2 linked regions of the Homo sapiens genome follow. The protein of the gene in region 1 purifies or fractionates together with the protein of each later gene. This does not show direct contact. Each region holds a gene or a part of one and is shown on either strand. Other genes may lie near its edges.

Region 1 (8,055 bases):
GAATGGAGGAATAAACAAGAAAAAGACTCAAGAAGAGAGACAGGAGTCAGTTCTCATCAGAGAAGAAAAGGTCGATTTCCTAAGGCAGGAAATATTGAGATGGGTTGTGTTCAGGACTAGCAGGAGGTGTGTGGCTGGCTTGTTCCTTGTCTACATCCTAATGGCCTAAAGAAAAGATGCCCCACACTAAGGACAGCAAGAGGGAAAGAGTGAGCCTCATCCTCCGTGACTTCAGTGGGCAGCTTAACCAGCACCAGAAAAGACCTATACTTGCAGATTTTCTTTGTGGGAAAACGGCGTTGGTTATTTGGGTTTTTATTTATTTCCAACCAAACATGCCTTAACGGATACAGGGTGCAAAGGCATGTACTAGATTATTCCAAACCTGCCTCACTGGTTTGTCCGGCATTCTGTGGACTTCCTGCATTCCTCTTTGAGGCAGGCCGTTTTCTGGAGGTTGTTTGTGATCGGCCTCTGCTCAGAGCCCAAATTCTTAGCCTTTCCCCCATGTGTTATGTCCAGTGTGGATTATCTTGATGGTGAGTTTACCTTTGATGTTGGGGAAAACAGGCAAAGAATGAATGAGCAGCAGTAACCAAAGAGCCTCTTTTCTGGGAAAAAAGCTATGATATTAATAATTTATAGTTCAAATGCACATTAATTTATCCATACTTCTGTAACCTTACATTCCCAAGCTCTCAGAAGTTCAGAGAGGTGTCCTCAAAGCTCACATTTCAAAGATGGAAAGACACATCTTTCTTCTTTTTAAAAATGATTTTAAAATGTATCCCCCTTTACATGGAACAATTTGAGATGCTCTGTGTGATGAAACAGAGACAGAGAATGATGAGTGGAGATCAAATCCTGGGTCCATGATTCAGTTGCACAGCTGGCTTAGGACTCAGTTGAACACCACTAGCTGCCATAATGGTCCAGCTGCCATAATGGTTTGGGCCAACTTATAGCTTTACATATTTTATTCTTAGTCATATGTTGTTTATTTATTATTTATTTATTCATTTATTTATTTTGAGATGGAGTCTCGCTGTGTCACCCAGGCTGGAAGGCAGTGGCACAAACTCGGCTCACTGAAAGCTCCACCTCCTGGGATCATGCCATTCTCCTGTCTCAGCCTCCCGAGTAGCGGGGACTACAGGCGCCCGCCACCATGCTCGGCTAATTTTTGTATTTTTAGTAGAGACGGGGTTTCACCATGTTAGCCAGGATGGTCTCGATCTCCTGACCTCATGATCTGCCCACCTTGGCCTCCCAAAGTGCTGGGATTACAGGCGTGAGCCACTGCGCCCGGCCATATGTTGTTTAATTTAAACCAACAGTAGACCATTGATTTAAAAAAGCATATGGGGCCAGGGGCAGTGGCTCACTCCTGTAATCCCAGCACTTTGGGAGGCCAAAATGGGCAGATCACCTGAGGTCAGAAGTTCGAAACTAGCCTGACCAACATGGTGAAACCCTGTCTCTACTAAAAATATAAAAATTAGCTGGGCGTCGTGGCATCTGCCTGTAATCTCAGCTATTAGGGAGAATGACGCAGGAGAACCGCTAGAACCCGGGAGGCAGAGGCGGAGGTTGCAGTGCCATTGCACTCCAGCCTGGGCAACAAGAGCAAAACTCCATCTCAAAAAAAAAAAGCACATGGAAAAATATTAATATATTTAAATAACTCAGTATCTCAATAAACCTATGCCTGACTATGTGGAATATATATATATTTGAGATGGAGCCCCCTTTAGTAGAGACGGGGTTTCACCATGTTGGCCAGGTTGGTCTCGAACTCCTGACCTCAGGTGATCCACCCACCTCAGCCTCCCAAAGTGCTGGGATTACAGGTGTGAGCCACCGCACCTGGCCCTATGCAGACTATATTAAGAGAGAAAAAGTAAAAATTAAACTTTGCAATTGAATGAAATAACTACTATTTCTACAACACACATTTTCACTTATGATCCATAATGCCTTCTATGTAATTCAAAATTCCAGATATTTTCTAACAGAAAATTTCTCCCTGTTATGAGTCTGCAAAATTTATATGAACAAGGCTATTTATATTTTGTCTCTCTTCCACCTAGTGTAAATCTTCTTGTATTTTGCTACAGATATACTCATGTGTTTGATGGCAGGTGCTACCCCACACCTCTTAGGGATTTACACACTGTATGGTGTAAATACATTACCATCCTACTAAAATCCAAATGATCATGAATTCCAAAATACATCTGGCTCAGAAGGTTTTGAACAAGCAATCGAGGCACTGTCTAAATCCAACAACGATGAATAAATTTTTTCAACATTTTACATGTTTAATAGTTAACATTTCTTCAGAAGTCATTTTTATTTTACAAATTACAATAAACAGCATATTTAATTTGCTAAACAGGAAAAGAGTATGCAGTTATTAAAAGTTGAATTAAAATGGCTCTCATAAATCAATCTTCAATAATATGCTTATATAAAACCATCTTTAGGTTGGGCACAGTGGCTCAAGCCTGTAATCCCAGCACTTTGCGGGGCCGAGGTGGGCGGATCCTCTGAGGTCAGGAGTTCGAGACCAGCCTGGCCAACATGGCAAATCCCCATCTCTACTAAAAATACAAAAATTAGCCGGGCATGGTGGCACGCCCGGCTACTCAGGAGGCTGAGGCAGGGAGAATCACTTGAACCCGGGAGGCAGAGGTTGCAGTTGAGCCGAAATCACGCCATTGCACTCCAGCCTGAGCGAAAGAGCGAGACTCTGTCTCAAAACAAAAAAAAAAAAACAAAACATCTTTGGTCAGGCATGGTGGCTCACGCCTGCAATCCCAGCACTTTGGGAGGCCAAGGCGGGAGGATTGCTTGAGTCCAGGAGTTCAAGACCAGCCCTGACAACACACTGAGACCTCATCTCTACACAAATATTTATTAAAAATTAGCCAGGTGTGGTGATGCACACCAGTAGTCAGTCCTAGCTACTTGGAAAGCTGAGATGGGAGGAACACTTGAGCCCAGGAGGTTGGGCCAGCAGTAAGCCATGACTGCAGCACTGCTCTCCAGCCTGGGCAACAGAACAAGACCCTGTCTCAAAAACAAATTCTTTTAATCAAAAATCAGGTTTTATCCTATACCACATAAATAGAAAGAAATCATTAGAAGAATTTCCACCTGCCTGGGCAACATAGTGAGGTTTCTGTCTCTACAAAAAAGTACAAAAGAGGCCAGGCGGGGTGGCTCATGCCTATAATCTCAGCACTTTGGGAGGCTGAGGTGGGCAGACTGCCTGAGGTCAGGAGTTCGAGACCAGGCTGGCTAACATGGAGAAACCCCGTCTCTACTACAAATACAAAAATTAGCCAGGCATGGTGGCACACACCTGTAGTCCAAGCTACTTGGGCAGCTGAGGCAGGAAAATCGCTTGAACCCAGGAAGCAGAGGTTGCAGTGAGCCGAGATTGTGCCACCTCACTCCAGCCTGGGCGACAGAGCAAGACTCTGTCTCCAAAAAAAAAAAAGCCAGGTGTGGTGGTGTGCACCTGTCCCAGCTATTTGAGAGGCTAAGGTGGGCGGATCACTTGGGCCCAGGAGGTGGAGGCTGCAGTAAGCTGTGATCGCACCAATGCATTCCAGTCGGGGTGACAGAGCAAGACCCTGTCTCAAGAAAAAAAAAAAGAAAGAAAAAAAAGAATTTCCAAGGGGGTTTGCTTCCTTGTGATTATGAAGGGCTAGACGTATCCTATTCAAATCCAGAACAAAACAAGACTATTAGTAAACATGACTACTTAACATAGCTCTGTCATACTAGCTAGGACTATACAATGTTAATTTTTTAAAGTTGAAATATGGAAAAAGAAGATATCAAATTACTTATTAATTGGGGATGGTGTTGTATCTATAATAGACACGAAAAATCCAATGAAATATTATTAGACTATAAGATATCTGCACAGTCTCTGAGTAAATACTCCTATGCCAAAATCAACACACTAACAGCAACAATTAAACAATGTGTAGCCTGAGGTTGGATCCTCCACAGTGACCAAAAAAACCAACAACCCGTGGAACAAGTTTAGCAGGCAGTGTACACGACCACCAGAGGGAGGCAGAGGGCTGCTGAGACCTGCCAGGAAATATCAAGAAAGAGGACACAGGGTCCTGAGCACTGAGAGAGATCATTAGGGCCCTCAGGTCCCAAGAAGACAAGACCATACTGGGACCTGGGACCTAAGGAAGATAAGAAAACACCAGATGTCGGTCCTTGAGGAAGCCAAGAGAATACCTCCTTGTCCTGAGCTCCCAAGGAAGATGAGAGCACCCTGGGCCCAAGGATGGGTGGCACACACCAGGTCCTGGACAGCTACAGACTTAGGTTTCCTCTCCCTAGACATGAGCACCTCAGCTTCCAGGAGCAAACTGGACCACAGGGGGACACTAGGCAGAGGATCCTGCTCCTCCTCCCCAATGCCTGGGGTACAGTTAGCCCTGATCATCTCTCCAGAACTAGGGTAGACGTTTGGCCTCATTCCCATCACACTTGTGGTCCACCTAGTCTTCCCTCCTTCCCCTTGCACACCCCTGACCTTCCTACTCCCTTCCTCTAATCCCCAGAACTAGGGTGGACGTTTGGCCACGTTCCCATCACACTTCCGGTCCTCCGAGTTTCCCTCCCCTCCCTGACCTTGAGTGGACACTTGGCCCTGTCCACCCTCACTTTCAGGCAGGACCCATCTCCCAGAAACATAAGTGCCGTCAGTCCCAACTCCTGCACACTTCCGGCTCTCCCAGTCCTCCCCTTCTTTCTCGACTTTGAAACTGGTGGAACTTCAGTACCTCTCCCCACTCCCCCCGCGACTTCCGTCTTCCAGTCCCCCTCCTTCCCCAAAAGTTGCGTGGACTCTAGCCCCGCCTCCTACATTCTCCCCGCCCTCCCTGTCCCCGCCCCTCCACCCAGATGGACGGCCAGTTAGGCCCGCCCCCTGCACTTCCGGCCCTACCCGCCCTTCCTCTTCCCAAGGGACGTCATAATTAATCCCGCCCCCACCGCCACCCAACCAAGCATCACCCATTCCAGCACTTCCGGCCTGACCCCTGTCCAGCGCCTTTCCTTTCTCCAGCTTCTGCTCTGCCCCAAGAGTGGTCGCCTTCGTGGCAGGGCACGACTCTCTCCCAGCTCGGGTCGCCGCCCACATTAGTGTGGGGCCCTGCGGCCTAGCGTCCCTCACCAGAGGCCTCCCCTTGCCTAGCTGGACCGCCGAGGGACATCGACGAGTATCCTCCTCCTGCTGTCCCCGGCTTCGCCTGCCGCCCCTAACCGGCCAGTCAAGATGGCCGCCGCTGGGTGAGGCAAGCTGGCGCGCCGCGGGGGCGTCTGGGAGTTGTAGTTCGGGACGGCGGGCTGACGCACTTCGCCGCCGGCCGACGGGCGCCATTGTGCGGCGCGCGCCGGGTGAGTGCCGCGCGAAACCTGCGTCCGTCGGGGGCTGCGCTGGGCGGGTCCAGAACCGTTAGTTGGGGGCGAGCGCGGCCTCTGCATTTTCCGCCGAGCTCGGGTACCCTGAGCCGGCCGTGCCTGCAGTCCTCCCGCCGCTCTGTGGGATGGGGTCGGTGACCCGGAACCCCGAGGGGAGACAGTGCTTTCGGGGCGCCGCGGTGGAGAGAACAGATCGCCTCCGGAAGCGTGGGGTCTGGGCCAGGGAGGCGATCCCCTCCGATGCGCGGGACAGAGGAGGCTCGGTGTCCTCTCGGGGAGGGGAAAACTGGTCCTATCCAGTCCTGTGGGAGTCCTATGACTCACTCTGGGCGTTTTCCAGTTTGGGTGGACTTGTCATTTCCCGCTGAGGGAGCCGTTCCTGGGCGGAGGCTGCGGTAGCTCCCCAGCGGACACCTTAAGCCTCTCCCTCCCCTCCCAACTTCGGTTTCCTCAGGACTCTGCCCACTTCCACCAGAGACACATTGAGAAGGAGGAAACTATGGCCTCCAGGCTTCCGACGGCCTGGTCCTGTGTGAGTAGAGGCTTCCTTCAGCTTTTGAGTCCGCTACTGCACCTGGGAGGATGCGGATGGTGGTGAGATACCACCTTCCCTGAGATACCCCCATCCTCCAGAGCACCTCGGGGAGGGGGTAGAGATTGGTTGGGCATGAGAGATCCTGCGTGATGGTGGAACCGCAGGTTGCTTGGTTTTCCAAGGGTGTAGTTAGAATAGAGACCAGATTGTAGGGGCTTCTGAAGGCCAGGTTAAGGCTCTTGCTTGTATCCTTTATATTGGGAAGAGTAATTGACAGGTCTTTTGTTTGTTTGTTTTTTGTTTTTTGAGATGGAGTCTCCCTCTGTCGCCCAGGCTGGAGTGCAGTGGCGCGATCTTGGCTCACTGCAACCTCCGCCTCCTGGGTTCAAGTGATTCTCCTGCCTCAGCCTCCCCGAGTAGCTGGGACTACAGGCGTGTGCCACCATACCCAGCTAATTTTTTTTTTATTTTTATTTTTTGTGTGTGTTTTTTGTGGAGACGGGGTTTCACCATGTTGGCCAGGCTGGTCTGGAACTCTTGACCTAAGGTGATCCGACCATCTCGGCCTCCCAAAGGTCTATGCAGGGATCAGGCTTATGTTTAGATTTCAGCAGATAAATTGGCATCAAGCAAGAGGTGACAGCAGCAGAGTTCAATAACAAGTAGAAAAGACAGGTGAGGATGGATCCCTGACAGGTGAAGGAGATAGAAAGAAGCATCAGGGCCCTGGGTAGGGGCTGACGGCTTGGGTGTGATGGTGCAGCTCAGAGAATTCCCTAGGAGGCATACGCACCACTCCCAAAGTCAGAATTTTCAAATGAATAAGAAATAGGGGGCCGGGCGCGGTGGCTCACGTCTGTAATCCCAGCACTTTGGGAGGCCGAGGCAGGTGGATCACGAGGTCAGGAGATTGAGACCATCCTGGCTAACATAGTGAAACCCCGTCTCTACTTAAAAAAATACAAAAAATTAGCCGGGCGTGGTGGCGGGCGCCTGTAGTCCCAGCTACTCGGGAGGCTGAGGCAGGAGAATGGCGTGAACCGGGGAGGCGGAGCTTGCAGTGAGCCGAGATGGCGCCACTGCACTCCAGCCTGGGCGACAGAGAGAGACTCCGTCTCAAAAAAAAAAGAAAAGAAAAATAGGGCCGGGTGCGGTGGCTCACATGTGTAATCCCAGCACTTTGGGAGGCCGAGGCAGGCAGATCACAAGGTCAGGAGTTCGAGACCAGCTTGACCAACATGGTGAAACCCCATCTCTACTAAAAATACAAAAATTAGCCGGGCATGGTGGTATGCGCCTGTAATCCCAGCTACTCAGGAGGCTGAGGCAGGAGAATCGCTTGAACCTGGGAGGTGGAGGCTGCAGTGAGCCAAGATTGCGCCACTGCACTCCACTAGGAGACAGAGTGAGACTCTGTCTCAAAACAATAAATAAATAAATTAAATAAATAAATAAATAAATAAAATGGACAGATTTTCATATGCTACAGAGATCTCATGTGTTGCTCTCCTTATTGTAACCTGAATAGAGTCAAGCTTGGGTTTGCTTGGGGTTTCAGACAAAGACAGGAACTCAGGATGAGACTCCCAAAATGCCCTTGGGTCATCTTGTAGACCATTCTGTGCTTTCACTGGCCTGGTCAGCCTCCCCTGTCTTTCTTTTGTCGTGGATGCGGATGGCCTGTGGCTGAACAAGAATCTGGATTTTTAGGAACCAGTGACCTTTGAAGATGTAACACTGGGTTTTACCCCGGAAGAGTGGGGACTGCTGGACCTCAAACAGAAGTCCCTGTACAGGGAAGTGATGCTGGAGAACTACAGGAACCTGGTCTCAGTGGGTAAGGCTGGCCTCCAGGTCAAGAAGGATCTGTGCTTTGTAGCACAAATGTAGCACCTCTGAAGTATGTGTCTGCTTGGGCTCACACTGCAGGGGCACCAGTAGGAAAAGGGCAGCTTTTCAGTATGACTTCTGAATCATTGCCTAGTCCATCCCTCCCTGAATACCAGGGAGATGGGTCTGTCAGGGATGTTTTCAGCTGCAGTAGTGGATGCTTATTGTTC
Region 2 (3,113 bases), on another chromosome or scaffold:
TCGAGTGGGTGGGTGTGAGCCATAACCATGCAATTAGAGACAAGAGCTGCTGGGTGGCAGATCCTGCGCTGCTTGTGTTGGACTGTCTGGGAGTTGTTTTTGGCCAGGGGCAGGCTTGGAGGTTGGTGTGCAGCATTTGGGCCATCATGTTTTCTTGGTAGTTTGCTATGCTGCCCCAGTCACTGTGGACTTCTCTTCTAGGTCACTATGTTCATGCTGGGAACATCATTGCAACACAGCGCCATTTCCGCTGGCACCCAGGTGCCCATGTGAGTTGCTCCGTTGCTGCCCCCCTTTTTCCTTTTCTAGGTTGACCTCTCCTTGCCCCTAAGCATGGTAATAACAGTTGCATGTATTGAGTGCTTACCAAATGGCAAGCATTGTGCTGATTCCCATGCCTACACGATCTCATTTCTTCCTTACCACATCCCTGTAAGTAAGGTGAAATGCCAGAGACCTAGACGGGGTGGAAGGAGCAAGTGACTGCTGGGATTTGCACCAGGTCTGCCTAACTCCCAGATCACTATGATTTGCCCTGGTGTTGCATTGGCCTGGTATTCTTGGTTCTCCTTTCTAACCCTCAGTTCTTGGAGGACAAGATACCTGGTGATTTAAAATATTATTTTAGTCTTGGGAAACTAATTTCAATTTATTAGTTTTTCATTATTCTAAGACTTCTTCCTTTGTATAAACTTACTTGCAGATGGTTGAAAGATAGCTTGAATTTAATGAAATAGAATTCAGTGTGCCAGGAGTTAGGTTCATACCAGGTGGGGATTTCAGTTTCAGCAAGTTGGCATCATTTTTATAGGGTAGGACAGTTCTTTGTTACAGAGACATAACGATACTGTACTCTCCACATTATTTTAAATATTAGTTGCCTTTGTAAACAGTTTCCCCTCCCCCACCCCTTTTTCGATAATTTTAGTAGGTACAAAAAGGTTGATAGTAACCTGTATTTATTTCAAAGATGCTAATTTGTATGTGAATTGATTATGTATGTAGTAGCTTTTTACCTTTTAGAACTTAAGACATTAGATGTGTGGCTATGTCAACAATAATAATCAAAGCTAACACATTTTGAGCTAGACAGTATTCTAGGCCCTTTATGATTGTTGAGCATTAATCCTCAAAATGACCCTGTAAAATAGTTAATATTATCCCCATTTGACAGACGAAAAAATAGAGGCACAGTGAAGTAACTTGCCTAAGACCACACAGGAGTAAGTAGCAGTGCTGGTATTTGAACCAGGCATCCTGGCTCCAGAGCCCATTCTTTTAATCAGAGAGACAGAGAATAATGCTGGACTACCTGGGTAAAATTTGCCACACACCCAGCCTGAAGTTCTAAAAGAAAAAGCTAAAAAATATGGTTAAAAACTGTATATACAACACAGTTTAATCTCTCTGCTTCATATTTCACATCTGAAAAGTGGCGTTGGAAATAATACCTCTTTCACTAGGTGAGAATTAAATGACTTAATGTGTATTAAAGGGCTTACATGGGTATTAGCTAATGCAGTAGTATGATTGTTTTATTAGCATATGCATTATCCATATAGCTTTGGTTTATATTTTCCATAGAGCCTAAACTTTATAGATCACTATCTAAATGAAAATTTACATCAAACTAGTGTTTTAATATGACAGTTCTAGTGTTGTTTAAGTCTAAGTGAAGATTTAGGGCATCTTCCTGGGTTTTGGGATTTGTGCAGTGTGGCTTCTGACCAGCTGCATAGACATGGCTCCAGGTAACAGTCCCTGGGACTGAGCAGTGGCCCATGTTGGCTGTTGGAGCTTTCTTTTCCCTCATTTGTTATGAGTCAATAAAGAAGCAGAAGGTTTGGACGTGCTAGCCAGTGGGAAAGGGAACCTGAGATGGAGCTCTCTGATCACCCTTTCAGCCCCAGGGCCCGGCTCTGTGTGAGAAGTCTGTCCCAAAATTCTGGGACGGACCACCTCGCTGACCAGCTGACCAGCTGACCAGGTCTGTGTGTTGCAGGTGGGTGTTGGGAAGAATAAATGTCTGTATGCCCTGGAAGAGGGGATAGTCCGCTACACTAAGGAGGTCTACGTGCCTCATCCCAGAAACACGGAGGCTGTGGATCTGATCACCAGGCTGCCCAAGGGTGCTGTGCTCTACAAGACTTTTGTCCACGTGGTTCCTGCCAAGCCTGAGGGCACCTTCAAACTGGTAGCTATGCTTTGATGTCCTGTTGAGGCCATCGGACAGAGACTGGAGCCCAGGTGACAGGAGATGGTGATACCAGAAGTCAAGGGTTGGGGTGGCGACACGGCCTCCCGAGGAAGAGGTCTGCTTGATGGTGACTCTGCAGGAGACTCTGAAGTGACTGCTGGGAAACCCTTTGGGAGACCTGACCTGGGGCCAAAAATAAAGTGAGCCAGCGTCATGAACGCATGCTATTTAGGGACACACCTGGATGGAACTGCCTGGTGATCTGTTGGTCCTTACCCAGGTTCTCTAGTGCACACCAACGGGGAGCCTCAAAGCAGGAAAGAACATATCTGAGTGAGGAAATGAGAAGGGGGGACTTTGTAGGAGGGACTTGCTTTGGCACTGTCCTCCAGAGGGGGAGGAGGGGAGCTTGTGCTTGAGGGTGTCATTGCTGCTTCTCCTCTTAGATCCCAAAAAAGGCCAAGGGCTGGGCCCTGGGAGGAGGGGTGGGAGCAGCCAGTAAAGGAAGCAACACAGTCATGTTCTCCTGTAGCCACATGCCAAGGGAGCTGGGGCTGCAGCCCCAGAGGTGGCCACAGGAAACCCTCTTCCCTGCCTGTCCAGGTCTAGGGCAGAGAGAGAGCTTGTGGGATGGCAGGAGATGCTTCTGAGAGGCTCAGTCAGGCCCCAACTGCCCTGGACTACCGAGGTCTTTGCAGTGGTAGGGCAGAGTAGGAAACAAATGGCTTCTTCCCGCTCACCTGAAGAGCTAGGCGCACCAAGCCCACATTCTCTTCTCGTTCTTGATTTATCTCAAACGATAAACAGTAGCAAAGAATCTGGCTTCAGGAATACTCGGTGAGGGCTTAGAGTGGGCTGGGGTCAGGCCACTCTATTGTCATCCCAGCCAGGACCTTTAGAGGCTTGGCTTTGAGTG

The links.
Region 2: the proteins of ZNF274 (region 1) and MRPL27 purify together in Homo sapiens (affinity purification with mass spectrometry; 2 studies listed by BioGRID and IntAct, with this or other methods). This does not show direct contact.

Annotation. Positions count from the first base shown.
Region 1 is NC_000019.10:58,178,007-58,186,061, forward strand, and holds the start of ZNF274 (neurotrophin receptor-interacting factor homolog), read left to right. Parts: upstream 1-5,054; 5' UTR 5,055-5,436; exon of another isoform or gene 5,437-5,914; 5' UTR 5,915-5,959; coding exon 5,960-5,992; intron 5,993-7,690; exon of another isoform or gene 7,691-7,705; coding exon 7,706-7,832; intron 7,833-8,055. UniProt on the Homo sapiens protein: Probable transcription repressor. Specifically binds to the 3'-end of zinc-finger coding genes and recruiting chromatin-modifying proteins such as SETDB1 and TRIM28/KAP1, leading to transcription repression.
Region 2 is NC_000017.11:50,367,188-50,370,300, reverse strand, and holds the end of MRPL27 (large ribosomal subunit protein bL27m), read left to right. Parts: intron 1-201; coding exon 202-269; intron 270-2,002; coding exon 2,003-2,209; 3' UTR 2,210-2,434; downstream 2,435-3,113.